Linked DNA regions of Homo sapiens: regions 2, 3, 4 and 5 are each linked to region 1. Evidence: fine-mapped expression QTL. A gene starts in region 1. Each other region holds a variant in brackets. All regions are shown on one strand. Distances are from middle to middle. Region 1 holds the start of C1orf226 (chromosome 1 open reading frame 226). Region 2 overlaps NOS1AP (nitric oxide synthase 1 adaptor protein). Region 3 overlaps NOS1AP (nitric oxide synthase 1 adaptor protein). Region 4 overlaps NOS1AP (nitric oxide synthase 1 adaptor protein). Region 5 overlaps NOS1AP (nitric oxide synthase 1 adaptor protein).

What was found.
Region 2: its variant is fine-mapped to the expression of C1orf226 in whole blood (TOPMed, PIP above 0.99).
Region 3: its variant is fine-mapped to the expression of C1orf226 in lung (TOPMed, PIP above 0.99). The same link has a PIP of 0.9 or more in subcutaneous fat.
Region 4: its variant is fine-mapped to the expression of C1orf226 in blood mononuclear cells (TOPMed, PIP above 0.99).
Region 5: its variant is fine-mapped to the expression of C1orf226 in whole blood (TOPMed, PIP above 0.99).

The regions. Positions count from the first base shown.
Region 1 is chr1:162,378,884-162,385,019 of GRCh38, reverse strand. It overlaps C1orf226 (chromosome 1 open reading frame 226), which reads right to left and starts at 3,292. Exons shown (of 2, transcript NM_001085375.2): 1 at 2,802-3,292; 2 at 1-1,838. The coding sequence starts at 3,118. The coding sequence ends at 1,337. RefSeq lists a silencer at 2,347-2,641.
Region 2 is chr1:162,232,174-162,238,309 of GRCh38, reverse strand. All of the region lies in intron 2 of NOS1AP (nitric oxide synthase 1 adaptor protein), which reads right to left. Among named protein-coding and RNA genes, the nearest start is that of MIR4654, 78 kb to the right of the region's middle. The variant T/G (reference allele first, on the strand shown) is at 2,939.
Region 3 is chr1:162,188,901-162,195,036 of GRCh38, reverse strand. The region is part of intron 2 of NOS1AP (nitric oxide synthase 1 adaptor protein); the gene reads right to left. Among named protein-coding and RNA genes, the nearest start is that of MIR4654, 35 kb to the right of the region's middle. The variant G/C (reference allele first, on the strand shown) is at 3,488.
Region 4 is chr1:162,221,469-162,227,604 of GRCh38, reverse strand. The region is part of intron 2 of NOS1AP (nitric oxide synthase 1 adaptor protein); the gene reads right to left. Among named protein-coding and RNA genes, the nearest start is that of MIR4654, 67 kb to the right of the region's middle. The variant G/A (reference allele first, on the strand shown) is at 2,285.
Region 5 is chr1:162,333,650-162,339,785 of GRCh38, reverse strand. All of the region lies in intron 5 of NOS1AP (nitric oxide synthase 1 adaptor protein), which reads right to left. It also overlaps the pseudogene RNA5SP61. Among named protein-coding and RNA genes, the nearest start is that of MIR556, 5.8 kb to the left of the region's middle. The variant T/C (reference allele first, on the strand shown) is at 3,369.

The sequences.
Region 1 (6,136 bases):
TGGTCACAGGAAGACAGCACAATAGGCCCCTGGTGGGAGACCTAAAAGTGGGTTGCAGGAACCAGTTAAGGCTGGATGAACCTGGTCAGTCCCTTACATGGATCCTGAAGCAGGAAAAAGCCCACCAGCATCAGCATAAAAGAAAGGCAGGCAAGGGCAGGGCGGGGCCGCTCCAGTGAGGTCCAGAGCTGCAGGAGGCCCAGGCAACTTCAGCACAAGCACAAAGCACTTCCACTTAATTAAAACTGGTTTCCCCCCACAGTTCTTCTCACATTCCAATCTTGTACATGCTTCATTCTGGCTCTCACAGCAGGCCCAGGCCCTGAAACGGCATTATTTTAGGCTGCAAGGTGGCCCCTGAAAAGCTGTTCTGATCCCCAGTGGTCGCTCTTCTCTGTCCCATCCTCACTCCCTTCTCCCTGCTTCTGCTCTGGGTTTTTAGCACCAGCTCTGAATGCCAAGACCACCCCCAAGTTCCTGGGCCCTCCCCACAAAACCAAATCAGAGTGTGCTAGGCCGCATCTGCTGGGGCCTGGCTCTCCCTGTCTTCACACACTCAGCAAGAGAAGCCTGATCTTTCCTTCCGTGCAGAATGCCCACATTTTGTGTTCGACATCTGACCAGATGGGAGAAACCTTGGGAACCCTGGGTGGCAGCGTTCAAACCCTGGGTGAACTCTCAAGGTCTCAGGCCTGGTAAGCATCTCCTCTGGCCTCCACCCCAGGGGCAGAGCAAACATGGCAACCAGGGGCCTGCACTGTCCTGGGACCAAGAGGAGCTATGGCTGGGCTGTGGTCAGGGTGTGTGGCTTTCTAGGCCATGGCCTGTCATCAAGCCAAACACATCATTCCTCATCCAGCCTTCCTCCCGCTGAGGCCAGGGGCATCGGACCCATCAAGGAGGAGAGAGAAGGGACAGGGGTGTGGGAGGGAGAACAGCAGGGGAGGAGGCGCATGTAGGGGACAGGCAAAAAGAATTCCTGTAAGATCCATTGTCCTGAGCTGGTGGCCCTGCAATTCACTGAGAAGACAGGACAAGCTCAAGAGTGGAAGAGCTCTAATGTCCAAGGGCTGCAGCCCACTCAGAGGAGGTTACAGAAAATTAGGCTCAAAACGGCATCAAGTCCTTCAGCCATTCTGCGGATAGACTCTTTAACTAGAACTACTCAAGGACTTCCAGTCCTGCAAAATCCCATGATGGACGACTGGCTCTCTGCTGGTGCCTCATACAAGGAAGACAAAGGGCACAGCGGAGTTGAGGCCAGGGCCAGTGTGCGCAGTGGAGGAGAAAGCAGCAGGAAGACAAGGGCAGAGCTCAGCAGGAAAGAGCAGAGGCTCTATTCAAAGGACAGCAGGTCTGGGTGAGGGCCCTCATTGTCGAGGCTGGAGGTCCGTGCCTGAGGAGGGGGGCTGCCATCCTCCCAGGACTCAGCCAGGCTGATGGGGCTCAAGCTGAGTTTGAAGCCATTCCTCTCGATAAGGCTGGGGGAGGAGGCCCTTCTGCACTCAGTCATCTTTAGCTTGGATTCGTCCTGGCTATCCTTGTGGATTAGGTCAGGTACTGACAGGGAAACCTCTCCATTGGGCAGAACTTTGCCTCTCTCTTCTCTTTCCATGGTGGCCTCTGGCTGTGAAGCGTCTGCTGGGACGTCAGGCTGGGCAGTGGGAGCGGAGTCCTGGGCCTGCCCAGGTGATGGCTCTGTCCCATACTCCAGACTGCTGAGGACAGGCTGTGATGAAATCAGCATGTCCTGGGTGGTCTTCAGGGCCCGAGGGGTTCGCTTTCTGGTTATGGGAGGTGGAGGATCCAGCCGAGGAAATGTTTCTTGCAGGACTGACCTGTAAGGTTAATGACAATAAACACACATGCCTTAAGGACAGCAAGACACCAATCCACCTGCCATCTTGCTTCTCCAACTCCAACTGCACTTTCAACCCACCCCACCCAATAACTGCTCTACTCCTTGGGCTCTGGTTCTTGGTTTGGCACATAGGCCTTAGCAATTTCAGCATAACAGTAGCTTTTGGCCTGGTCCATGCTTACTCAGTGTTCAGAGCAGCACAAAGTGCTGGCCTCTAGAAGACAGGATAGAGACCGCTGGTGAAGCTTGTCAAATCAGAACCCAGGCAGTAAGTCCTGTGTTTAAAACAGGGAATGTGAGGGCATTCCCACCTCAGATGCACAGGTGTTTAAAACAAGGCCTGGAAAGAGCCTGTTGGTAGGAGGGGGAAGAACAGGAGGGCTGCTACAGGGGGCTTCTCCCACTGTGCCCTAGTGGGCTGTGACAGGTGCAGGCTTCTCCACAAGCAACAGTCTACGGCAGCGCTTCTCAGCTATGGCCGGGCATCAGAATCTACCTGGGGACCTTCTGGGCAATAGCTGGGTTCAAATCCAGCTCTGCCAAGTACTATCTTTGTGACCTCAAGCTATTTACTTTGTCTGTCTGAACGTGAGTTATCTGCAGGATGGAAATATCATCTACCTCCCAGGGCTGCTGGGAGGGTTAGACAAAATGATGCAACTATAGCCTGCAGCACAGAGCTGAGGACATGGTGTGCACTCAGCAACCTTCAGCAGCACAGAGCCGAGGACATGGTGGGCACTCAGCAACCTTCAGCTGTGGCTGCAGAAGGTGAAGCCAGCTCCCGAGAACGTGGCCTGATCCTGCAGCTTTTCAGTACAGGACAATCTCACACCCCTCCCTTGGGGCTGTTCTCCTGTGCAGACACTGCAGTTTGTCCCTGTACCTTTTCAAGTGGGTCCACAGAGGGGCATGGATGTTGGGCGGGTGAGGGGCTCACCTTTCATCCTCTAGCCAAGCCTCTGGAGCCGCGTCAGTCCCACTGGCCAGCTGTGCTCCTGCAGTCTTGTTGATCTCTGTCACACCCACACTGCCCAGGCTGGAGGGCTCCTTTCTCCTCAGGAAGTCATTCACTTTGGCCCCCATGGCTTTGCCCAGGTTCTTGAGGTGCTGGCTGCTGCCCACCCAGAGTCCTGGCCCCCCAGGCTCACCAGAGCCCAGAGGGGCAGAGCCGGGGGCCACGGGCTTGGACAAGTGGGGGAAGGAGCGGCTGGCCTGGAGCTTTGGAGTGAGGGCTGTGTTCAAATTCTCAAACATGCCGTGGTCAACTATGAACAAAGAGGCGACAGAGAGGCATGATGAGGAAAGGGGAGCGGTACCTGTGCTCTATCATTCAGTTTTTCCTTATCCCACACCCAAAACCTGTAACTTCCAAGGCTTTGGAAATATTCAAGAAAGAGCCAGCAAAGACACTCTTGAACTTTCCAGTGTAGTTTTCTTGATGGGACAGGAACTAGAAATTCTAGCTCTGCCCCACCCAAGTTAATCAGTGACTAATGCTAGCCATAAAAAAATAAAGTTGTTCCTGTAAACCTGCCTCCTTGACTCATGGGCTTGGCCCCTTTACCTTGGAGTCACCACGCCCTTTGGAGTAAAGAAAAAATGAGGATGAAGCAATGAAACATGACATTTTTACATCACCGTAAGCACGTGCTGAGCTCTCAGTGGGTTGGAAGCTGGTGGAGGGATGGCATGGATGAGGCTTGGTGTTAGAAGCTCCCCACTGAAGGCCATGAGTATAGCACATATTCTCCACAAAAAATGGGGCAGCAGCTCCTCAGGTCTACAGAGGTGGGCCTTGAGCGAGTGGGCCAGCTCTTGCAGAGGTGCTAAGTGGTGGTTCAGAATCAGTTCGTACCAAATGGATAGGAACTCGGTGCCAGTGAAGCACGAGGATCCCAATGAACATCAGCTTACTTAATCCTTACAACCACCTAGGGAGGTGGTACATGGAAGGATATCTACCTACAGATGAAGCCTGCAGGACTCCGCGTAATGCAGTGCCGTGCCTGAGGTCACACAGCTAAATACTAGCAGGGCTGGAGCTAGAACTCAGGCCTTCTAACCCACAGCTCAGGGCTCTGTCCACAACTTTGCCCTGCTATAGATCATGGAACAGCTGCCTATATATGCCTGGTACATGGTCCTTCTTGTAGGGATCCTCTTTGGCTTGAAAAATTAACTCAAAGAGCTGGGTATAAACCCATTAGGTTGTAAAGATTTGCAAGGCAGAGAGCATGCCTCATTCATCTTTGTATTTTCAACACCTAGCCTGGGTTTGGTACCTAGCTGTGCTCAATACAGATCTTGAATCGCCAAAACCCATTTTGTAGATAGAAAATTGTGGTGGCCAAGGTGGTAGCTTAAAGGTTTGTTATTGAAATGACTGGAGCTCCAGGCTCTAAGCCATGCTGTCCACACACTCACACTTGGCCATCCTCTCCCTATCTGGAAATCCAGCTCAGTCATCAGGCAGCCAGACCCACTCTGAGGCCTTGGAATCTGGGTCAAGGTTTCTGTCTACACCAACTACCCCAGATATGTTGTCAGTCTGAGGAAAGGAGATCGCTCGATCATTTGATGACTAGGCTCCTTTCCTTGTGAACACCTCTGCTAAGTGTCTATTTTCACTGAGCCTCTTCTAAGAGTAACTGGGGTTAGGGTGTACTTTTTCTTCTGCTGAATTTTTGTGTAAAGCAGTTCTTTCTGCCCTGCACTGCTGTATCCCGGGCCAGTGAAAACCTTTCTTGTGGTTTCAGTGGTGCTATCCTTTCTAGGCCAACTACCTAGGTATGCCATATTCTAAGGGCCTTTGGGTGGCAGGGAGGAAAACCTGTGGGAAGTGAAGTGGAGACTACTCTCTGCGGATGAGCCCTGTGGCCTGCACCACTGCAGGGTGAGGACCTGCCAGGGAACAGCATGACAGCATCCCTGGGACACAGGGCCCAAGCTGGCTGGGCTCCAGATAGACCCACCACACCAGCAGAAGCTTCCAGCCCGCTCCACAGCAAGCAGGGTCATCAACTCCTGATGATTCTCCTAAGTGTGTATCTTGCCACATCATCCACTTTGGCACAATTTGCCTGTCAGGTCCCACATCCTTCTTATTTTCTTTAATCACGTCATCCGCAAACTAGCAAAGAAGATTTGGAAACCAAACCATTTAACTATTTCCCCCCAAACCAGAAAGTACATAGACAACAATGAAACTGTACGAAATGCCCGGGGAAGGCAAATTGCCACCACTTCCCAAATCAGACATTTCCCTGGTGGTCTCCTTATTGGTTTAAAGTGACTTTTCAGAGCAGACATACTCGTTTTTAAAAAGGCAAGCACCAAAAACACCTGTCAAGGTGATTAGTAAATTATAAGCTATTATTATTTTTAAAACACTCTTTGTAATAAACAGAACTCTGGATTATGCACCATTTTGGATTTCCTGTATTTTTTGCTCTCTACCCTTCATAACATAGTCTATAACGCACTGAATTCTTAAGTAATGTAAAGATAGCCTACCATGCACTCCCTTTACCCTTGTCTAAGTCTTTCCAGTAAATACACCTTGTCTTAAAATGGTAAGGTCCTTGAGGGCCATAGCTCCTGAAGTGTTTCTTTATCTTCTACAATGCCCAGCTTAGGGTCTTGCACGATAGTAGGCATTTAATAAGTTTGTTTAATTGAATTTGACTTTTATATGAATTCTTAAAAATTGCATGATGGACTGACATTGTAGGGAAACTGCTCACAAGTCTTTTTCCATTTATAAAAACCACTCAAAACTCCCTCTATGGGAGTGGTCTTCAGGGGCTCTTGAGGTCAGACCCGGATAACTGCCCTTCTATTCAAAGTGAAAGTGGGGCTCTGGCTGGGGGGTCCCTTTATCCCTATGTCTGAGGATGTGCAATGGGTCCCTTTCTTGATGATGACGCTAATGACCCCCACACATTATCTCTCTTGCTTCAGGACTAGAGGCTTGATGGTTCAGAAAATAATGGCAATGGAGGACAGAGAGATGACTGGACCCCAGCCAGGTGGCCCTCCCAACAGTACCCCCCAACATGCACACACCCAAGCAGAGGAGGGCATCTGGGGATGTAAGTCATCCACAAAAAAACAGGATATCTTACCTGTCCGAGAAAGGGGCTCGGAAAGCAGGTGGGAAACAAACAAAAGAAAGACACATTTTACGTAGTGACCAGTCACTTTGAGAGTGTCACCTCCTGCCTGGGCCACCAGCACCAGCATACCTCGGGGGGACACAGCACACAAGACAGG
Region 2 (6,136 bases), 150 kb after region 1:
CGCACAAAAATACCCAGCTGAGGGGGTTAGTGGGGACTGGAACCCATCCATGCTCCAAAGGAAGAGACACCTTTCTCTTATTCATACGTCCATTCTCCCTCCTTCTCCCCCAACCCTGCCTCCTATTCAAGTCCACACATTGTTACACAGAACAAAATTAGGCAGGGCTATCAGGTTAAAGCACTGCACCATACTGTAAATGATGCTCTCATTAAAAACAACAGCACGGTCAAGCAGAGAGCATGCTTGCATATGAAATGTGATTAATCCTGTCAGATGTGGCTCATGATGACTGGGGCCACACCACCACGACAGCAGCTCTGCATCGAGCCTAGCTGTGTGCCTGGCCACACCCCAAAGTGCTTCACACTCCTCTCATTTCACCCTCAGAGGCAGACAAGAGGACAGCAAAGGACTCATGTGTCTCCCATGCTCTCTGAAAATGACTTCCATTTCTACTGGGGACCAAAAGTAACAACAAAAGTAGCTTTTTATTTGTAGAGCACACGACTTTTTCAAAGTACATAGCTAACACTGTCCCCGCAAAGCCTGCCTCCTTTAAGTGCTATAGCTGATGAAGTTAGAATGGGTGATCTGTGTCCACTTGAGTTGAATATTCTTTAAGTAATAAAGGACTCAGTTATATTTTAATTCTTTAAAACTGATTCTCCTTCTTGTCAATCAACTGTCAATTTTCTGTGTTAATTTCTGGCAGAGGTAATAGAGTTAATCCAAAATCATAGGTGTGTTAAAGTCCAGATTGACCAGTATCCTTAACAAACCAGGCACTGAGCTGAAAAGGGGATCATTTCCCAGTGGGCCTTAATGCCCACAAAAATCCCTGTGGAAAATTGAGAAACAGACAGAAAGTGACTAGCCTAAGGCTTGAGAGTGAGTGGCTGACTGACTGGCAGAGGGCTGGAAATCAAATTCAAATCTCCTGACCTCTAATTTCAGAGGGTGTCCTGCCTTCCCAAGGCCCAATTTTACAGTTAAATGGCTTAACAAGGGCTTTACTGGATTGAAGTCAACATTAAAAGACATTAGATTCCACCAGCACAGTCTTTGGCCCTTTGTCTCTAATGAGAATTTGCCCAGTTAAAATTTCAACATTGGGTCTAACCTGAGGGATCTTGACTTTCAGCCTGAAGCTCTTGAAAAGACTTGATTAACTTGGGAGTTCCTGCTACAAAGAAAGAGTCAAGAACCCTCTCCAGCAAAGGTGAGCTGGCCTCAGTGGTAAACGGGAAACGAGCTGGTTTAAATCACCACCCTCTCACCAATCATCAAGATAAATTCCATCAAACATACACGTATTGTGTTTCCAGGAGAGCTGGGGGTTATCCAGGGCTCTGAATAATATGCTACCATCAAGATGAAACATTTTCCTTCTCAAGTAACTAGCAATTTAGCTAGGAGAGGCTCCTCTGATGCCTAAGAAGGAGGGTGAAGACAGGTCAGTGAGGAAGTACAGCCTGCATGCAGACCAGGAAGCCTGAAACCAGCCAGACTCTTCTGCAATACATGGACTGGCCTGTGAACTATGGGTTTCGATTTATAGAGACAACATTTCTAACCAAGGGAAACAGAAAGGAAGGCAAATTGAGGAATGCAGGAATACACCTGCCCCCCCATCCCCCACCAAAGAAAAAGAGGGAAAGGGGGGCTGGAGTGTTCAAGAAAGCAAAAAATGGAAAGAGGAGAGAGGGGACTAGAGGGATGACTTGCCCTGCTTCCTCATGGCTTAACAGAAGTAACATATGGGCAAAGGGTGTGCTTTAATGGCAGACTGATGGACGGGAGTAGAAAGACATGTCCGCTAGTTACTCTCTGGGTATCCCTGGACACACTGCTCAAGCTTGCAGCCCTTCAGCTGTGAAAATATGAATGGTATGTTGTGAAGGGCAAGTCAGCTAAAAATATTTTCCTGGGGATTAAGTGAGATCGTATCTGTAAAGCATCTAACAGGTTCATAGGGGCTCAATATAATGGTAGTTTTTGTTATTAGTGACCAAGGAAAATGGTAGCACAGTTGTACATATTCAAAATTGCTGATTGGTATTAGAAAGTTGGACAGCTACTAGCATAGGAATGGAAAGCTGAACTGTACTATGGAGTTGAGGTGGAAAGAAGCCAGAGGAATGGGAAATCAGTAATGAAATCAAAGACCCTGATACACAGAATCTGGTGATCAGTTAACATCTGTGGAACGAATGAATGAGAATTTAACTAACCTATATTTGTCATTTACAATACAACTCTAAACTGGGACTGGGGAAGTGACATGAAATATCACTTAACATGTAGACTGTGCTCCTAACAAACTCTTGGAGGATCCCCCTGGCCTCAGTTTCTCATCTCCAATGAATGAAACCAGATGATGTCTATGTGCCTTCTAGATCTCAGATTCTATATTTCTTTGATTTATCCAACTGATGCGACAAGTATCAGCAAATGATCTAAACACATGGATGCATGTATGTGAGCATGAAACATATTCATGTCATCAGTGAGTCAGGCAAGTGCTCCTTGAACACTGGCCCCATGTGGACCAAGAGACGGAATGCCAGGAATTAACCACCATCACCTTTCTTGTAACTGCCCCTTGGCCTCTAGTGATGCAGTCACTACTCTGCTTAATTAAAACCACGTACACAGGCCTGGTTTTAATTAAGCAGAGTAGTGACTGCATCATTCTGGCCACTGAAGCTTTGATCTCCCCATGCAGCATGTTTCCGCACTGTTGACCATGCTCCAAGAGCCTGAAACACAAACCAGCAAGAGCCTTTGACAAGTCAGCCTTGACGAGGCTCCCCATGGCCCCTTTCCAGGTATGCGCAACAGTGAGGACCTGCAAGGTGCAGAGATCAGGGAGAGGGCAATGGAAAAAGGCAACAAAGGCTCATGCTACCAAGAGCCAATACCAGCGCCAGGGAAG[T/G]CTTCTTCACTTAGGCAAGCTCTTACATAAGAGCTTCCCAGTAAGGGTCATGCCTGTTGCCACAGAGTGCAACGAAATCATGACAGAGAGAAAAATGATTTGTTGTGGGGAGATGAGTAAGATTAAGTTCAAATTCAAGTTAGCTGAGTGAACCCTTCTATGGGGGAAAAGCTTTCAGAATCAGGTCCCCAGGATCTAAACCTCATAACACTTGGCAAGTTAAAAAAAAAAGTTTTAAAATGTTTAATAGGAAAAATTTCTCTCTCTCTGTACTACATTTCTTCTTCACATATTCAGGATTTACTGAAGGAACGCTCAGGTTTAAAACAATAAAAGGAGGTAGCCCAAATCTAAATGAACAGGTTGAGAATGTGATGAGCAAACTCAGCCCAGGGAACTGTCAGAACAGGGCATAAAACAACCAGCGAGGGGTTGGAATCAGAGTAGGGTTCTGCCTCAACAGCCGATTGCAGGGTATAGTTTGCAGAACTCCAGAAGCAACAGCCTCTTCTATGTGGCTACAATTCCCCACTCAATTTGATTAAACACAAAGGGCACTGCACATGGGAGTGGGAGTGAGGGTGGGTGTGGAGCTGTGGTCCTGCAACAGAGCACTGTGAAAACCCATCTGTGGTTTCTGGAATGGACTCAGGAGTTATGGCAGCACCCATTCCTCCTGTGATAGAAACCTTAGATTAGAAACATCATGGAGAACAGGACAGCAAGAATTTTAAGGAGGGAGTGAGTTGGGAAGGATGGGGACACAAAGTGGCACAGGACACATAGAGAGGAAGAGACACATTGGCTCCACGTGGGAGGAATTCAGAAGTTAGAGACCCTGGGCAACTTGGGAAGAAGAGCTGCCACAATGATCTTGCCAACTTCACAAGACAAAAATTTCTATAAAAGAGACATCCAAGAGAAAAATTTCTATAAAAGAGACATCCAAGAGCACAGCTCTGCCATTCCCTGATCTAAAACTCCTCATTTTCCCACTATCTATGGAATAGGAACACTCCTTAGCATGGTGGTCCTCAATGCACTCTATGATATAAGCCCAATGTGACTTCCTACCCTCGCTCCTTTAAAGCCCTCTTGTTCCCAACTCATTGCTAGGATACTAGCTCTGCTTCTCACTGCCTATAGCTTTTCCTCATCTTCATGTACTGGAATGATACCCATTTCTCAAGGTCCAGATACCATGCCCCCTTGTCCATGAGCAAAATGTGCTTCCTCAGCACTCTGCCCATCTCCTGGGCCCAATCACATTCTGCCTGTGTTTGCAGTCCTCTCTATGCATGTTGGTCTTTCCTACTAGATTTTAAATTCCTTGGGTGTTAAAACCATGTCTTATTCATCTTCATGTATGTCCAATAGCAGACAAGATGTGTTTCTCAAAGTAGGTTACTACCACATGTGTAATGCTTCCCTAACTGTTGAATTTTAAAGGAAAAAAGAAAATCACAAACCATTCCAAGGTGCCAGAGTCAGATCTCCAATCCCAAAGTATTCAGGAGCATGGAGAAGAGGTTAAACATCTCATACGAGTTTCTTGGAAGAAGAGGAACCACTTAGTAGGCCAAGAAAATCCTCACAAGTCCTGGCCACAAAGCAAAGTTTTGAGAGGCTTGAGTTCAAAACACTGCCTTGCAAATAAAGTCCCAGAAAGTCATATCTATCTTTGGGATTGGACAATAAAGTACTTAAAATAAATGATAAAAGTTCATCAAGTGTTTCTAAGGTTGATGGTTATTGGGGGAAAATTGGAGTGACTGCTATTGGGTATAGGGTTTCTTCTTGGGATAATGAAAACATTCTTAAATTGTGGTGACGGTAACACAACTGGATCTACCAAAAAAAAATCACTGAATATTACACTTTAAATGGGTAAACTGTACACTATTGATTTTGTCTCAATAAAGATGTTATTTTTAAAGACATACCTCAAGTAAAGGAGGACACTTGGAAAACAACCAGGTTAGAGTCTAGGGTAGTCTGACCCTCCTGGGAGAGTCAGAGCCACAGCAGTACAACTACCCCGCCAGCCACCACCATGCAAGAGCCACAGGCATTGGGGTGGGGAGGAGCTACTTAGCAAGCTCTGTTTGCTTTGGCCATGAGGATGAGCAACACCAGGGGTTCCATATATAGCTCAATGCTTCTCAAAGTGTAATCCCTGGAGCAGCAATATCAGTATAACCTGGGAACTTAGAAATGCCAGTGCTTGGCCCTACCTCAGACCTACTGAAGCAGAAACTCTGAAGGTGGGGCCCAGCAACCTGTGTTTTAATAAGCCCTCCAGTAGATTCTAAAACACACTGAAGTTTGAGAACCACTACACAGTTTAATTCTTAAGGGCACAGACTATGGAGCCAGACTGTAAATTTGAATTCTGCCTCATCCTCTTTCTGGCTATGAGTCCTTCAGCAAGTTACTAAACCTCTGTGTGTTAGTTTCCTGTATATGAAATGGGAGAAACAACCATACCTATGTATCATAGGGTTATTATGAGGATTAGATGAGTTCATTTATGACAAGGACTTAAATCAGTGTCTATTACATAATAGAGTGCATAATAAAGGTACATAATAGGTACATAATAGGTACATAATAAAGCAAATAACTATTTGCTTTAAAATTTTTTTAATATTCAGATTTGGGGTTGGTCTCATGTACTTTCACCCTTGGTAAGCCAAACCAGCATAAAATTGAGGCAGGTTAGCAGAATCAAAGCACAAGAGAGAATCCCACAGAATGGGCAAGCTGTCTTGTAGCTGTGTCAGCAGACCGCATCTGCAACACACACACACACACTTAGACACACACACACACACACACTCTAAGCACAAAAGAAGATCACAACACTCTTCAGCTTCCCTGAGGAAAAGAAAGAACTTCCACTTTGTATGACAGAGCAGGGAAGATAAAATGTTCTACATAAAAGTGGCAAAATAAATCAATTCCAATAACAGCCTTTTAATTCTCTGATCCCCAAGAGGAAAAAAGGAAGTGAACAATGTCAAGTATTCCAATCACAGCCATTAACAAGCAGCTTTTAACAGAAACTGAATAAACCACCTTCCCTTGTCCCATAAATTCAGAGGGATTAGGTTTTCTGCCACCTCGAGGACTCCCAGTCATGACCTTTCAAACTCAGAATGGCAAGATCTTTGCACTTTACAAACCCAGGTTTGCACA
Region 3 (6,136 bases), 190 kb after region 1:
ATCTCTGGCTTTTCCTCTACTATGAGGCACAAGCAATCCTAGTCCAGACAAACCTCATAGGAGTGACTGGATAGGGTTAATGCAATAATACATCCAGGGGAAATACTGCTGGCCAGGTCCTCCAAAATAATGCTGGATATAAAATTCTAGCTCCTGCAAGGTCACTTTTTCAGGACTGAATGTGCCAACCCAATTTCAAATGGCTCTCCTAGAATAAAAATGAAGTTCTACTTCCTAGAGGAATTAATACGCCCCTCTTGCCTCCCCTTCTGTGTCTCTCAGCCCCAACCCCCCGAGGAAAGCAAGGGCTGTTGGCGAGACACTGTCTCAGACCTAAATACCAGACCAAAGGTAAAGAGAACACTGGCAACCTTGCCAAATCCCCAGGACAGCTTTTATGTGCTCCTTTTGATCATCTGTGAGATCATTTAAGAAAAAAAGACCATTTTCATATCCAAGAGCCCCTCTGGAACAGAGTACAAACCTTGAAAGGTTACAGGAAACTTTTGCACAGACATGGAACTTCCAGCAGGAAAGTAGAAACCACAGTGCCCTTTGAGAAAACGTCTCAACACAAAAAAGGGCACAGCCAGCACTGAAGGGTACTTAAATACGGGGAGGACTTTCCTCAGCCAGAGAGAGGGGTTCCCAAACCAGCGCAAACTCACAACCTACAGAGATGGACCAACCAGGCTCTCTGCAAACAAGACTGGGCAGAGCAGTCTTGCAAACTCATCGCAGCCAAGGGAATAGACTCTCTGCTCTATTAAAGTAGTAATGGCTGTTTTGGTTCCTTATTTTATCAGAGAGATGAAGAGAAGAGAGGGGACATATAGGGGTCTTGCGAGATGGTAATTGGGAAGTTGGGAAATCATGTTTGAAAACCAGATGGAGACGAAAAGAGGAGTCTGAGATGGGAAACAGGGCAGATATATCTGGGATATTTATTTAAGGCTATGCATGGGGAGCTCTGCAAGCAGAGTGTGTATATCTGACACTTGTTGAAGTGACAGCCCTGGATCTCTGCAGAGCCTGTGAGACGGGAGGCCTCAGCAGCTGTCACACTCCAGTAAGCTGGCAGCTCTGCCTTGGATCTCCTGGCAAATCCCTGCCAATAGCTCAGACAGAAAGGTAACCACTTAATTAAAAAGAAAGAAAGAAAAGTAAAGAAACACCCATCTAGAGATGGAAAAGAGAGCAGCAGAACCTAATACTGAGAGGAAGGGGTGAGAAAAGAGTGATCTCAGGCTTTAGAAAAAGGGTCAGGAAGAAATAGGAAAGATCTAGCTTGATTTCTGAAAAGGGCCCCTTTTCCCTGGCCCCCTCTAAAATCAGGAGACATTCTTCAGGGAATTGTCAGAAGAGAAGGGAACAGACAATCCAACTAAATACAGATGGAAACCAAGAGAAGTTAGAGTCTCTTGGCTGCTATTCAGCAAGATAGACAAACATTCAGTAAATGGTCAAGGCGAAAAGGAAGCAAAAATAATCCATCAGCACAAATTCTTAAATACCCTCTCCTTACTCCACTCAGACCTGATTGCTTGTCTAGCTCCCTTTCTAACTCTCAGGCCATTCCCACTTTATCTCTTAGAGCCTTTTCAACAGCCTGCATACCCAACAGCTGTGAGTTCCCTGGGTCTATCCCTTTATGCCCAGGGACTGGGACATGCTCCAGGACAAAATGCCCCAGAATCTTATCTCCCTTCACCTCAGCTTACCTCCACTTCAGCCTGGAAGAGCCCTGAAATCTGCCTTAAGATAATTCAGAAGAGACAACCTGTCACTTCGGGGATCTAGAGCTCCTATTATTATCAAACAACCCAGGCTTCCAGCTTTAGCTCCTTTCCAGCCACTTCACAGCATCACTCCTTAAGGCATTTCAGTGTTTCTTGCAGCCTGAGAGTCATCTTTTCAGTACAGTTAAGAAAAATCTGTAACTATTGTAACTATCCTTCAACATCCTGAGTGTTCGCAAAAGCACACAGTGAGTTCTCTCATCACAGGAATTTTTCTGCAGAGGCTGTCAGTTCCTGGCACATGGGCACACTCTTGACTTTTACCAGGGGTCAAAGTGGCCTGTTAGATAGAGGGTCTGGCTGAAATCAGAAGACTAGAATAGATCCCTTGCTAAGTCTCCCCCATAGTCTCTATAAAGGAAGGGAGGATGTGCTCTGCTCTGCAAAAGCTCAGGAGACCTGAGCATTAAACTGAAAAATAAAACATATATCAGATCCACACAGAAAGGTGCAAAATTACCTGAGGAAAACAGAAAGGTGCCCAGGCTGGTAAACCTGACTACAGGTAGATTAAATTATTTTAAAAATCTATATTTACATATATTTAAATCAGCAAAGGGATTGGCCAGTGGAAGAACAGAAAAGTTGAGACATCTAAGCAAAGAGGCAGTGCCCACTGAGGCACAGGCCAGGGAAAAGTGGCCTTGCCCAAAACCACATGGCAGGCAACAGCCTTTCTGTGGTGGTAAAGCCAGTCTTCAAGCCTCTTTCTTCTTCTGGTTCCTCTAACACAAGTGCCACTTGTATTCCTTGTTCTGAACCTAGTGTCCCCAGTGACCAGGCCTGCTGCACCAGGCCTCATGCTACACTCAGAGTGCCTTCCTCCCCACCAGCTACACACCAACACAAAAACCCATACATCATCCCTTTTGAACTTTCCTGAGCCCTTTCCCAGTTTAACAGGACAATCTGCAGAGTAGCAACTTTCACACTAGAGTCTAAGACACTTCTTGAAAAAACCCTGGAAAACGGCAGTCAGGTTGATGGCTCAGACCAGCAGTTGTCAAGCTTGAGCACACATCAGAATCACCTGGAGGGCTTGTCAAACACAGATTGCTGGGCCCCACCCCCAGAGTTTCATATTCCACAGGTGCTGGGTGGGGCCTGAAACTCCACATTTCTAACAAGTTCCCAGGTGAGCCTGACACTACTGGTCTGGGGATCACATTTTCAGAATCACTGGTCTGGACTATTCAAATAATCCAGGACACAGAGGTGGGAGCCCAAAAACACTGGCATTAAAAACCCCAGACAAGTCCCTTATCTTCCAGGGGACAACCACTCCCTATCTGAGTAGCAGTAGAATAGAACCCCCTAGCTCAGCACCAACCACAGGCCAGGATCTACATCACCACTTTGGCATTTATTATCTAATTCTACATGAGTAGGGTAATACCTAGGCTAAATGAATGGTGTGATTTCAATGACATTATTACCATAATTAAAATTAATGGGCCAACTTTCTTCATTAGAAAGATCAAGAATGAGTGACAAACACAAAGAGGTCAACTACAGGATCAATCTGAGTTGGACTCTCTCTTACCCCCAGGCCTTATCAATGGGGGAGGAAGAGGAAGAGGAAGAGAATGTAGCCAGCTATCTAGGAGAACGCGGCAAGAATTTCTGGAATCCCTTATCTTCTTCTGCCAGCCCAAACACAGATCCCTCAAGTAATTCAGTAAATCAAA[G/C]AAGACATGCTAAAGAGTCCTGGGGGAACACAGGATCTTCCCATTGTACCTCCACATGGGCAAAACCTGATAATCTCAGATCTATGGGTTGTGGAGAGGAAACAGAAAGAAACAAGCTGTACAGTTGCCCTCACAAACCCCTGCACCATAGTGCACAGAAAACACTTCGAAGCAGGGAAGATCCCCCCCAGGAAAGAACAGTCAGAAGCAAGCTAGGAAGAAACCCTACCCCAGGAAAGAAGCAAGTGGGGCCAGGGCAGGAAGATCCTCAGAGTAGTGCCTGTCTCTTAGGGAACTCAGGGATATTTTCCAATCTGATGTTCCTGTGTGGACAGTGCCCGTGGTATGGGGCACACTGAGAAAAATCAAAGTGAGGCCAACAGAAGAGCTGCTTTACATAAGGCTGATATGGACGGGCAAGTCTAGCCATGGGGTGTTAGACGGTGGTGGACCAGGGAACAACTCTGTCAGATTCTGCTTACAGAGTCTCCCACACAGGGCCCCTGCCCATTCAGGACTCTAGAAAAGTAACACGATAGGGAGCCATTGCTTCTGGAAAAAGACACAGCCCTCAAAAACCCTGATGATGGTTACCCTAGCATCTCATCCCTCTTCCACTGCTCTCCTCAGACCATCAGAATGTGACCAATTCCTGAGGTTCTCAGACATTAAGGGACAGAAAGGTAAACACTGCATGTTCTCACTCACATACGGAAGCTAAAAAAAAGTTGATTTCATAAAAGTAAAAAGCAGAACAGCGGGTCCTAGAGGCTGGGAAGGGTAGGGGGAAGAGGGTAATAGGGAGAGATTTGGCAAAGGATACAAAATTACGCTACATAGGAGGACTAAGTCCCAGACTTCTCCACCACTGCCGGATAACTATAGTTAACAATAATATATAAAGTTTCAGATAGCTAGAAGGAAGACACTGAATGTTCCCAACACAAGGAAATGATAAATGTTTGAGATTATGAATATGCTAATTATCCTGATCTGATCATTATATATTCTATGTATTAAGATATCATTATATACCCCATGAATATGCACATTATTTGTCAATTAAAAATAAATAAAATCAGATTGTTTAAAAAAATGTGTTCAGAACATGTATACATATGTAACTAACCTGCACATTGTGCACATGTACCCTAAAACTTAGAGTATAATAATAATAAAATAAAATAAAATTTAAAAAAAATGTGTTCAGAGAAGAAAGAAATCTTGAAGTTGAAGAGCCCATTCAAGCAGGGAAGGACAGCTGATAAAACTAGAGATGTTTAGCCTAGAGAGATGGCGGAGCCAAGTATCTGAAGGGCTATCATGGGGAGCAGAGATGAAACACGTTCTATGTGAACATGGCCAGAGAGGGGCAGGGAGGGTAAGACAGAGACTGTTAAAGTTACATTATTTTTGTAATATCCACTACAAAAAGTTAAGCTCCACAAAATCTCACTTGGCATCAATTCACAGGCCTGGATTACAAAAGGGTGAGAAACTCACTAGCCATGCCCTAGAAGGTCTCCACGATCTGGGACTGGCCCCTCTTCATCTTCACTGGAGGGTGCTCTCACTCACTTCACTCAGCACAAACCATCCCTCTGTTGCTGGGAGGGGCCCAGCTCACTGCTGCCTCCCAATCTTGTACCTGCTGATCCCTCGCCATGAACAGATCTTGGCAAGCCTGGCTCATTGGCAATATTCAGGTTTTAACTCAAATTACCCCTCCTCAGAGAGGACTTCCCAGACACTTTCAAAGTAGCCCCACCTGGCCTTCCCCAGAATCACTCTCCGTCACATTACCCTCTTTATTTAGATAAAAATAATTTTCTCTTTATTTTCTCTTTATTTTATTCACAGAACTGACCACTCTCTGATGTTACCCTGTCTACTGTGTCTTTGTATTATAACCAGACTTTCCCATTTGAACATAAGTTCCATGAGAAGAGAGATCTCGCCTATCTTATTTACCTGTTTCCCAGTGCCTAGAACATTCTGTCAGATACTGATACTCAAATATTTGTCTATTAAATGAATATTTGTTGAAACACCAAGCACAGTCCAATTCTTTGAGTAGGAGAAATCTGATTCTGTATGCAAAGGTGTTTTCTTTTCCATCCAAATTATGGAAACCAGTTTGCTTAAGGTAAGAATTAACAGACTACTAACAAAAAATACCAGTTTTTTCTACAATAAATAATTAGCAGAACTAAATGAGCACCTTAAACTTTTTCCATGTTTCAAATAGATGAAGTCTGCCTAGACAGGAACACATTTTGGTTTTTTATAATGGCATTTTCAAGTGACAATTTCTGGGTAGTTATTAAGAGCTGAAATGTTCAACATATAAAAAACTGTTCTTAGACCTCCTATTGTAAGGTAAAATGACATGATACAACTATCATAACACATATACTATAATGCAAATTCAAACTTCATATACATGAAAAACACTAAAATAATCTTTTTATTTATTTATTTATTTATTTTTTCAAGATGAAGTCTCACTCTGTCGCCCAGGCTAGAGTGCAGTGGTGCAATCTCGGCTCACTGCAACCTCCGCTTCTTGGGTTCAAGTGATTCTCCTGCCTCAGCCTCCTGTGTAGCTGGGACTACAGGCCACTGTGCCCAGCTAATTTTTGTATTTTT
Region 4 (6,136 bases), 160 kb after region 1:
TCTGCTTCCTTCCTGGGCCATGGGAGAGCTACCTGCCACAAAGTTCAACCATGAGTGATTAGGCTCCAGTCAACTTGCAAGGAGCATGGTCCCAACCCCAGTCCACACAGGAGGATGGTTCTGATCTCCTGTCATGTGCTAAGTGCACTGAAAGGAGATCTTAAAGTCTGGGCCATCAATCCCCATTCTTGGTTTCTAAGATTTCCCCCTTGTTTTTTAATTGTTATATTTTTAAAATTGTTCCTATGTGTTTGGAACAGAAGAAATAATTCTGAATGTGCTTACTGTACTTTATTCACAACAAGTCCACCAGGAAATGTTAATATGGCCCTCTTAAATACTAAAAATGCTCATATGTGTGAAAAATTTATGTTTTTGTATATAGAAATAGATTAAACAACATCAATGCACAGCGGGGGAAAGACTGGAAGAATCTACTCTATGAATGTTAATAGAGATAACTCTGTAATGTTGGAATTAAGGGTGATAATTTTTTTAGCCTAAATATTTTAAACACATTTTCTATAACCATGTATTAATCATTATCCAGGATCCTTTTCTTTCTTAAAACTCACAACTCAAAGGAGAATGAATGGTGCATTTCATTTCAGGTAGTATGATGGCCTGTATATTCTTCCCTGTCCCCCTTAGACAAACTGGCCCTCTGGGGATTTAAAAAAAAAAAAGTCACTAGTATACTGAGAAAGAAGAGTTAAGAACAGAGTCCAAGGCCTGTCATCAAAGAGCTATTAAAGAGGGAAGAATTTCAGAGCTCCCTGAAGGCAAAGCTAGCTTACAAAGACACAAAGTGCTAATGGGGATATTTACCACTTGTTCTCTAACTAGCAGCAGAGCTTAGGAAGACATACAGCCTAAGGAGGGAAAGTGAGTTGTACTGGCCTACATACAGGTGAAAGTAAATATTCAGAAAAACTAAGGATTAAAAGTTAGTAAAGGCTTCAATAGAACATCCACAGAAAAGCCTTCCTGATGCCCCCAAATTAAATCAGGTTACTCTGTTAGGGTCCCCTTACAATCCTTACTAATCCTTCATTGCACTCATCACAATTTGCAAGTTCACAATTATTGTTGTAATGTTAGGTTTGGTATTTAGATGGTAAATACTAAGTATTTAGATGTTAATACTAAGAATTACTAAGTAAATACTACGTAAGTAAATATTAAGTATTTAGATGTTAGGTTTAGTATTTAGAGCTGCCCCACAATACCAGCCCAAGGAATGTGTCATTTTGCTCAAGGCTAAATCCCCAGGGCCTAGCACCATAGCAGGTAATCAATAAACATTTCTTTTCTTTTCTTTTCTTTTCTTTTTTTGGAGGCTGGAGTCTAATGGTGGGATCTCAGCTCACCGCAACCTCTGCCTCCCAGGTTCAAGTGATTCTCCTGCCTCAGCCTCCCAAGTAGCTGGGATTACAGGCATGCACCACCACGCCCAGCTAATTTTGTATTTTTAGTAGAGACAGGGTTTCTCCATGTTGGTCAGGCTGGTCTTGAACTCCCAACCTCAGGTGATTCGCCCACCTCAGCCCCACAAAGTGCTGGGATTACAGGCATGAGCCACCACGCCCAGCCAATAAACATTCCTTGAATGTTGAATACAAGCAAAATATTTTTATCTTGCTTTCGTTTCTCTATAACATTCCTTGCTTCTTAACATAAAATTAATTTGTTAAAATAATTTCATTGTATGAAAAATAAATAATTTGAGCTATTAGTATTCTGCAGCTAAAGTAGAGGTGACTATAGGGCCTATTCTATCCTAATGACACCATCAGTAATCTACGGACTGTGCCAGTGGTGAAGGCAGAGAACATGGGAGGACTTCACAAGCCTCTCTGAGACTTGATCCCAAAACTTCCCACCCATTTAAGTGAACAAAACAGCAGAGGTTAGCAAACTGACAGCCTTACCTGGGTTAGTTGCATCTGTGACAGAGAAAAACTTTAAGGAAATGGATCGTGGGACAACACTGATTGTTTATGAGGCACCTGCAGGCACTTTTATCCTCCTTGGAAGAGGGAAAGCATAACTTAATTTATAATATTCAAAAAACACTCCCACAAACACTCACTTTATCGTCCTTTACACAACCTACCTGAAGAAGAGGCACTGTGCACTGTGGATACTATTGTACCCATCTTACAGGCAGGAAACTGAGGCTCAGGAAGGTGAGTGATGCTCTTAGAGATACAGTGGGGCTGGAGCATCTTCTGTGGTGGAGGGTGTCCTGGTCTAGGGAGTGGGAACACTGAAGGGAGTGAGG[G/A]AAGAGGCAGTGCAGACAGAAGGCACACTGCCCCACAACTAGCCATGGTTTGTGCCATGACGATGGTCCAGGCCTTCAGGAAAGGTGAGAGCTACCCAAAACTCGTGAATAAGTAATAAGGAGAGTGACCTCATAACCCTACCCTAGGAGGACTCTGCTCAGACATGGCTAAAGTTTGTGCTGACACACAGCAGGCCCCAAATTAAATGGTTTGACTTCAAGGAGAAGTATGTGGGGTGGTGAAAAGTGGCAAATATCACCTGCAGGACTTCTGAGACTCAGACATGTCACTGGGAAGAGAATGGTTGCCAAGAAGAAAGCTCATTAGAACCTTATTTTTACTGAGATGCTTCTTTTTCAATGCTCACTTCTTTCTTTGTTTAAGACTTCCCGGGGGCCCTGCTTTTACTGGCTGAGTTGCTCACTGACCCAAGAGCCCCCAGCCCATCTCTGATAAGGCAGTGACCCTCAGGACATGGGGTCTCATCCTGGAAACAACATCAGTCTTAGCCAAAATCAACAGGGAAGATTCTGGTCAATTCTCCTGGGAACAAAGACAGGCACTACTTGTCCTCTCTAACTTCTCTCCTTTCCTGCCCTAAGTTACTCTGGATAAAATCAGGCTCAGGGGATGAGTCTGTAGCATTTCCTCTGTCTTCTTGTTCAGTACAATTTTTCACTTTTATTTCATGTTTAATTAGTTAAAGTAAAGCTTTCCATCAGAAGAGATATTGCTCTTAGTGCCACAGCTACCTGCATCCAACCTGGCACTTGTCTTTCTATGTGACCTTTCTCCTGACCCCCAGCATTCCAATTCTAAGCCTCTGCACCTATAAAGCTCAACCACCTTGAACATCAAATAATGTCCTAAGTTTCCATTGCCAACTTTTGATCTCCTCTGTCAAAAAAGTTTATTGTTTTAACCAAGGTAATGAAGTAATGAAAGTTCATTACCAAATGGAGAATTATGAATGTCAGAAGCAGGGAGAAACTGCCAGAATATATTTCAATCCTGGAAAAAATAAGTGCCTTGAATAAAAAAGCAGGCAATAAATATGTGTTGAATGAATGAACGGTCTCAAAAACTCATTTCTCTCCTTGTTTCCTGAGTGGATCCCTGACCTGCACAAAAGTTCTGTGCTTTTTTTTTTTTCTGTCCCCAAAACACTCTGAGATCTGGAATGAAAAGCGTTAGGACTGCAAAATTTGTTAATTACAAGTTAATGACTCTACAGCCTTTAAACCTGTGAATGCAAAGTGTCACCCAGTACAAATTAAAATCAGTATTTACATAAACTTCCCAAAGTGAACTGGAGAGTGCCCTTAACAGAGTGACTCTGGCAGAAAATGTATTATCCATGATCCATGCACCGTATCCAGGCAAGAGTGAAAGGTGCCATTTTGATTCAAAAATAAATTATATATACATACATATGCACATATATATTTTCATGTATAGTATTGAAATGCTTATCTTGACTTTGTCATCTTAGGCTTCCTTTTGGCTTTTTCCTTCAAATAGACTAAACTGCCATTATGGGTAGCAGGTATTCTGAACTGCAAGGCGCATGCTTTGAAATTTTAATAATTTCCTATATCCTCTACCTACAAAACCACAGCTATTAAAACAGGTGAACTGAACAGCAGATGATTCAGAGAGAAAATATTTTATGTAAACAATGATAAACACAATTAAATTTTTTTTCTCACAAATGTCTTAATCAGTTTAATTAACCCCTGATCTTAACCTCAGATTTCTTAAAGCTTTTTCTACGTCTTGACCTTGGAGCCCCAACCTCTTTCAGACATTCCTCCAAACATTATGCTCAGCTTGACCCCAGAAGCCTTTCTGCCGACCTGTCCTTAATTATCACAGAGCTCCCCCACCCCACCCCTACACACTTTTTGGCAATACAGAATCTATTCTATAGCTGCTTTCAAATAATCTCAGGAATTTTCTTAGTTGTTTTCTTGTCCTCAACTGAGTTTCTCTGCTTCTTCAATACAAGACCAAAAAACAAACAAACAAATAAAACAAAACAAACTCACAGAAGTTTGGGGAGGGAGGGAGGTCTATAAACTGCACCTCTAAGTTAAGAGGAGAAAATTCTGTAACTAGATTCTCTCCATTCTAAAGAAGGTATTTTTTCACTTAACTCTTACATGTAATAGGAATAATCTCAACTGTCTTAGATATAATTTCAGAATGAGTTTCTTAAAGATTACATATACTTTACACTCAACATCCTGAATAAAATGTTACAACGTCTTTGAACAAAAAGCTAAGACTGCATTATTACCAATAAATGAGCTGAAGTGACAACAGGTGGGTTTATTCATGGCTCTCCAATGACAAAATGGTAAAAGAATAGTGTGATCTGTATGTAAATACTCATAACTATCACACCCATTTTCTTCCATTCTCTTGACCTAATCAGCACACGTGATCTTAACCTCACCCCACAAGGAATGCAAATATCCATGCTTAAAAGTGGATGTACTGTTTCTCTTTTCATTTTTATTTCAGCAGTTTCATGCCTTTTCAGAATTATGCAAAAAATGCTCTCATCATGGCCAACATAAAACATAAGTCCCCAAAAAGGTAAAATATAGTACAACTTCATAACCAACCAGCAAAAGCAAATGTAACAGGCCACCTGTGTGTGGGCATGTGCCTCTATGGGTTATGAACTAAGTTGAGTAGTAATCACAGTTGAGGCAGAGTTAGCATCAAATAATTTGCATTAAATATTATCAAAGTAAAAAAGCAAAACAAAAAAAACTCTGCTTGATGAAAGATGCACCAATATGCATCTTCTGTACACAAATGAAGATAACCTCAGAGGTGTCAATACCACTTAACAGTCCTCACACTGCAAAGGATCCTGACAATGCAGGGGCACCCAAGTCCATAATGAGCTCTTTCATTAACATCAGTCAAGTAAAAGGTCTCTGAAACAACTGCCTGTGCTCAAGGAAGAAATTTATGATACTAGCCGTGTTAGATATTATATACCGCATTGTATACAACACTGCTGTGCTCCTTGTATACTGCCATGCTCAATAACGTGGCTTAAGTTGAAAATTAACCATGTGCATTCAAGCTGTCACATATTGCTGCAGGAAGTAAGGCTTGGTGCAACTTTTTGAAGAGTAATTTGATATTACCTAACGAAATTGGCACCACCTCCAATTCCACTATTCCACAGCTAGGAATAAGAACTGTAAAAATCCAGAGAGAGCAAGGAAAGAAATAGAAGCGAAATTCATTGCAATATTGCAACATTTTTTATTCAACATTTTTTATAATGGCAAATAATTTTTAAGACACAAATATTCAATGGGAGAATGATTAAATAAATTATAATTTAATCTATATAACAGAACATTATGAGGCCATTAAAAAGAAATGGAGTACAGGTGTCTGCATATATTGACCTGAAAGGACATCTTTGATTTATCATTGAGTAAAAAGAAAACAAGCTATAGAAATGTATATAGTATGATCCCATTTTTGTCTTAAAAAGTAGCTGACATTTACTGAATGTTTACATTCCAAATACTGTGTTAAATGCTGACAAACGTTTTTAAATTTAATATTTACTAACAGTCCTATAAGTTATTTAATACCCTCCGTTTGAAAATTAGGGAAAGTGAAGCTTAGAGAAGTTTAGTAATCTGCCTTAAGTAAAAAAGCTAGTGAGTTATAGAGACAGGCTTTGAACCCAGACACCATGGTCTTAACCCGTGTGTGTGTGTGTGTGTGTGTGTGTGTGTGTGTGTGTGCGCGCGTGTGTGTGCGTGTGTGTGTTGCATTAAAAAAAGAAATGAGAGATTACCCAAAGTGCTAAT
Region 5 (6,136 bases), 45 kb after region 1:
CCCACTTAGTTACCCCACCTTCTGGCCTGCAGGGCAAGAAAACTGGTTCTGCCTTCAACCCCAAAATGCAAGAATCACACACGCTGGGATTTTATCATTAATTAGCCATGTCTGCACCCAAGAGGGAGAACTCTGGTAAATAGCAGCTTTAAAAAGTCCCTTCCAGAAGTTTTTATGAATGCTTGTCTGTGGGTCTTCTAGATCACAGTGAAGCAGTTGCTCCCACCTCATGACGACATACAGGCCTTTGGAGACTAAAGCAGAGGTTTAAAGATTGAAGGCAGTGAGGTACAAAGGGTAAACAAGTGGAACCTTGAGAAAGCAGCCTTTTTGAGTTCCAAAATCTGGCCATTCTCTGGAATTTACTAGATTTTTTTTTTTTTTAAAAAAAGCATCATTATACTGCATTATTTCTGTACAAATCCAGTTTAGTTTTACATAAGCCCATAAAAGTGCTTTGCCACACGGATCAAATCTTCTCGTCCAAAAGCCATTTTCTATTAGCAGCCCAAAAGCATTTGTGGGCTCTTCATTGTCAAGATTAGGCTGGATATGGTTGCTTTGATATTTTCAAAGCTGGAAAGGGATCTCTAACCTCAGAGTGGCTCTTAGCTCCAGATGGAGAGCCTGCTCATGGGAGTGTCAACTACAGGCAATTTTGTGAAAATACAGCTGGAAAGGGAGCTTAAAACTGTATACACTTACCTTATACACACAGCAATGTTTCTTCAAACCACCCATCTTTTCACGCTGACACAGCTCCTTCTCCCACAACCCTAGGACATCCCTCAAGCCAGAACCAAAGTTAAGTCCAAATGCAATGAACAGCTGTTCTCCTCAGCACACCTAATGTGGGTATCAACTTCATACCTAGCAGGAGTCAACATTTGATGAACTGCGGCAATGGTCATGAAAATAACACTATATTCACAATCACTGTGGGTTGTACACCCGAAAGCAAACAAAAGCCGACAGTGGTAGCTTTAGGAAGACATAAATCAAAAGGTTGATTCCTGTACCTCACTGGCCCATAGAAAAATTATAGTCAATCATGATTTTATTTTCTCCCATCAAAGTACACACCAGACCCCACCCTGCTTAGCTAATGAGATCAGACACATTCAAGGTGGTATGGCCATAGACCATGATTTTATTTTCTATTCTCTTTCTTAACGACTTTGTAGTTGGTTGGTCCTATAAAATTTGGGAATCTTTAAGTGCCATATGCATGTAAAGAATGGTTCTTATTAGTCATATTCTATAGCTGATTTGATAAATAATTTTGGGCACTGTTCTGAATTTCACTGTCCTGGAAGAAGCTCTCTCTTTACTTTACAACTTACAAAGAGGATTAAGAGTCACCAGATAAGCAAGTAGAGAGTATAAGTACAAAATACCAGATGAAGATGATGATGACAATGACAATAATAAGAGGAGAAAAGAGAATAATGGGGGCACACATCTTTCAAGTAAGGTTCTTTAATGGTCTACCAGCTCTCTAGTTTACTATTCCCCTGTCCCCTCCTCCACTCCCCCTCTCCCCCATCTCTTTTGGGTACTCAAATTTGACTGACAAGTGGTTCTGAATTTTAGAGAACTGAAGTCCATGAGGTCAGCTGTGGGACAGCTCACAGATTTATAATTCTTATCTATCACAGCAATACAAGATAATGTCCTTGTCTTGACCTTAACTGCCACAGAATCTCAACAAAAACAGAACTGAATGTCATGTTTCTTTAATGTATTTTTTTGGGTTGGGGGGAATCTTAGTAAAAGATTCAGCTTATATCTATCAAATGATCTTAATCTATGGAATTTACAATGCCAAAGCATGAAAATACATTTATATTTGGACTTCTACATACAGTAGGATCTACAGTACTAAGGCTCTGAAATGGTAGATGGGTTAGGTTTTTGTCCAACACATTATTTTGTGGCTTTGATTATATAATTTGGTTGAGGTGATGCCTTGGACATCAGAATATTGCTCAGTATAAGGAAAGTTTAGTTTCAAAGCAGGTGTGATTTTCTACATTGACAGGACATACTGCATCTTAAAGTTTCCAACAGATAGCTGTGTTTTTCCTTCTACTCTGCTAGTCCATGAAACTTAGTACCCCAGAGAAAAGAAGTCTGAGTTACAATCCCAGTGCTGTCAGAACCAACTGGGTGACTGTGGACAGTTAATTCTCCTTTCTCAGTATTGATTTTCTCATCCACAAAGAGAGTGATTCAGACTAGATGAGTTCTGAGACCCATGATTCCTGCATTTTGACTTCCCAACTCAACCTAAAGTATAAAAAACAGACTCTTTCCCTAACTTTAGAACTTTCCTATCTTTCATCTCGTAAGTTTGACCAGGCAAGTGACTTATTCTTTAGCACATGGCTGTCATCATCATTCAAAATCCATTGCAACCTCTAAAGGACAGTTCAACTTCACAGCTGTGGCCCCCAATTTGATAGTGACAGCATTATAGGAGGAAATTATTTCTCCTAACCCAAACCAATCGAGCTGTGATTGCAGGCAAAATTATTTCAAGGAGCTGCCCATGAAGATAATGGGGAGATGCCTGCAGCTCCTGTTAATCACCAGCACTTCACGCACTGATGCATTAATAAGTGCAGTCACTGGTAATCAGGGCAGACAGCCATATACTCCTAGAGCTAGAAGAAAATGACAGGAGGATGACATCCACTCCACGGGAGAGGTCAAGAGACCATGCAAGAGTCTTCTCGAGAGGCAAAAGGCCCTGCAAATGAATACTATCATTATATCCCCCAAGGAGGGGAAACAAGGAATGCCCATGTTATTAGCAAGCATCTCCACTGGATGCTCACAGTGAGGAAAAGACCCACTCCCATCCCTCCTTTCTAGCATGGGTCTGAAGAGTGCTAGGGTCCCTCCACCACAATCCTGACAATCCTTCCCAGTCACAGAGAATTTGTTCCTTAAAGATGACGTCACTTCACACACAACAATCAGCACTCCTGAGATGCCTTTCATCTTATTTGATGGCTAGAGAAAACTCAAGTCCAGAAAGGCTCACGTATCTTTCTTATGAGTTTTGTGTAATAGGGTTTAGCGTTCAAAGTCCTGGCCTGAGAAGGAGGAAGCCTGTTTCTAATTTCAGTGGCATCATTGATTCACTGTGTGACCAAGGGTGATTTACTTCCTTGGGCCTTTTCTTCTTCAACTACAAAATTGAGTCAATATTAACTACAAAAAGATACTATGAGGAAAAAAGGAAAATCTATGTTAAAGTGATTTGGGCCATTCGGAGTTAAGGAGCTCTTCATACCCATGTAATAATTACAGCAGAACCCAGTTACAAATGGGTCTTGGAAAACAAAGCAACTTCTGAGTTA[T/C]ATAACTTCCTCATGAGCCAACAACAATAGTATAATGGAGTGGGTAAGAGTGTGAGCTCCACAGTCAGACCCTCTGGGTTCAGTTCTGACTCCATTACTTGTTGAGTCTTTACACACATTATGTACCTTTAGGCCCCATTTTCCCACCTATAAAATGAAGAGCATAACAGCACCTACCTCACAGGGCTGCTGTGGGAATAAAGTTAGATCATTCATGTAAAGAGCTTTGAACAGTCTCAGGCATATAGCAACTAATCAAAACAGGTTAGATATTATTATCTGATGTAATATGAGGCTGGAACTTAGATAATCTAGAGTATAGAAGAATAGCAGGTACCATGTTATATTCCTGCAATATTTTTGCTTTCTAGCTTCTGGTGAAAGCCCACTTGAAAAAAAACTTAGCTCAAGGATACAACTCCCAAGGTGGGAGCCACACTGGCTATCTGTGTGAGTGGCCCAAGGAAGATCCATAGGTACAGAGTAATAGCTGTGCAGGGAACAAGGTCGAGGGAGGCCCTCAACCAGGAAAGCTAAGACATCTGACCCATATTCTCAACCAAGAGAGGAGGTAACCCTTTCCCCATGTGAACTCTAGGGTGATGATGACACCCCATTAGAGGTCATGAGCATATACGCAGGGGACATGATGTGATATGAAACAGCAATAACCAAAGTCCCAACACAAAAAGGATCTCAGACAAGGTTTTTCTACACTATGACCAACACGAGGGCTCCGGAGAACACCCACATCTGCGGGCTTCCAGTCAAGAGGACTCCCTATTGACTTCCAACAACCCAGCAACATCTCTGCAACACACATGTCCTCTATAGTCCTTTCCCCCCGCCCACCACTTCTGAAGCATTCCTATGATTTGCCAGTTAAAACTCCTTCCCAAGTTAACTATTACCTCTTGACATTAGAAGTGCTTTATAAAAAAGGTAAATCACCATGTTTGGAGGCTAAGCAGAAGGGCAAGCAAAACCTTGCAGATGTGTTCCCCAGCCCTCCCCAGTTCTGCATCCTTTGCCGAACAATTCACTTCCCTTTCTTAGCTTGGAAACCAGCCTTCCCACCTACAGCTCAGCAGCAACAGGGCTCAACGCCCAGGCTGACTGGAAACAATCCCCTCAGCTGCATGGCTCCAGGCCAGGAAAGGGCCTGAGAACCAACTCTATGAAGAGCTAGGGTCTCAGTAGGTGAGGATGAAAGCGGTATAGGAAACAGGAAAGCCAGAGATCAGAATTCGCTGTAAGAGCTACGAGACATGGAAAAAAAATTGACATGATAGGGAACCAGATGACTACTCCTTTTCACGGATAATGGGAACTCCATTCTGTGCTTCACTTCAAGATCAAAGTTCCAAGTGAGCACTGGTCTTAAACTCAGGTTTTGTCAGAAGTGGATGCCCCCACTGCGTCCGTATTGCTATGTTAGATCTGATAGCAAGGCAAATATAACATAATGGTCCTCTTACCTAGGTTTCCTGCTCAAAATTCTTTTGTCCTGCATGTCTCCCTGGTTCTATTCTAGCCAGTGCCTATTCATGAGAACTCAGGCAAGTCATTTAACCTCTCTGAGCCTCAGTTTATTCATCGGTAAAATTGGGAAGTGAAAGTTACATGTCTTACCTTCTTTACAGACGTGTTATAAGGATAAAATAAGATTAACTATTAAAGAACCTGGCAAATGATAATGCGTTATTTGTAACTCTAATAAATTCCAAGGTCCACATGGTCCAGTCTTTGTACGAAACTAAAGTCAGAAGCACAGTCAAATACTCAAAATGAATTAAAAGGGAATTCCAGTCTTTTGTTGCATCTGTCAGAACCTTACAGACGAGCCAATTCATGACCATCAGGGAGACTTTGTATTTCCTTTTCTCTCCTCCCCAGGTCCCCTACACAAGGCCACATACGAGCCTTTCACTTTCCCAAACTCTAAACTTTCTCATCTCCAGCGCCTATGGCTTTTCTTTTTCTCCCTCTTCCTATTCCCCTTTCTATCAGTTCTTTAATGCAGCTTGACTTAGCCTCATTTATGTTTTTTCCCTCTCAGCTATACTATTATCTAGATGTGAAGTCTGGCAAGTTACTCTTTTATTCCTGCCATCTTTCCAGTTGTAGCACTTTTCATCCAACTCCATGATTTGCATTTAAAAAGCCTGGAACAGGGTGGTTAAGGGCACAAATCTCCATAGAGGAAGAGGCTAAGTTAACAAAGCATAATTCTCTTTGTGGAGCTAGGGTAGGGAATAGGACACCCATCAGTAAATCTGGACCCTGGCATGTGTTATTGACAAGGTACTTGACAAGGTACCTAAACATCTGCTAAAGAGGCCTGAAGACAAAAGATGCATAAAATGAAGTTCTTGTAGAAAGCCAGGCTTAGTAGTTTGTTTCTAGAATGATGGACTTACTAGGGTCCTTAGGGGCACAAATAGTGTTTTCCAAAATCTCTTCTGCAGAAAAACAGTTCCCAGGATATTAACACATATTACATGGAAAAAATATGATTCCATTGTGAAATTAGTTTGGGAAATTCTGGGTTAAACAACATGTTTTTTATCATCAGACCTTCTCAGCAACTTAAATCAGGTAGTTTTAACATGAAACATTTTGGCTGATAAATGTTTTACAGAACACATTTAGGAAATGCTGATTTTGACGATTCTTTTCATTTTATAGATGAGAACGCTGGGACCTACATAACGTCACTCAGGGTTCCAGTGAGAGGCAGGGCTAGATCCTAGGCTTCTAAAACCCCA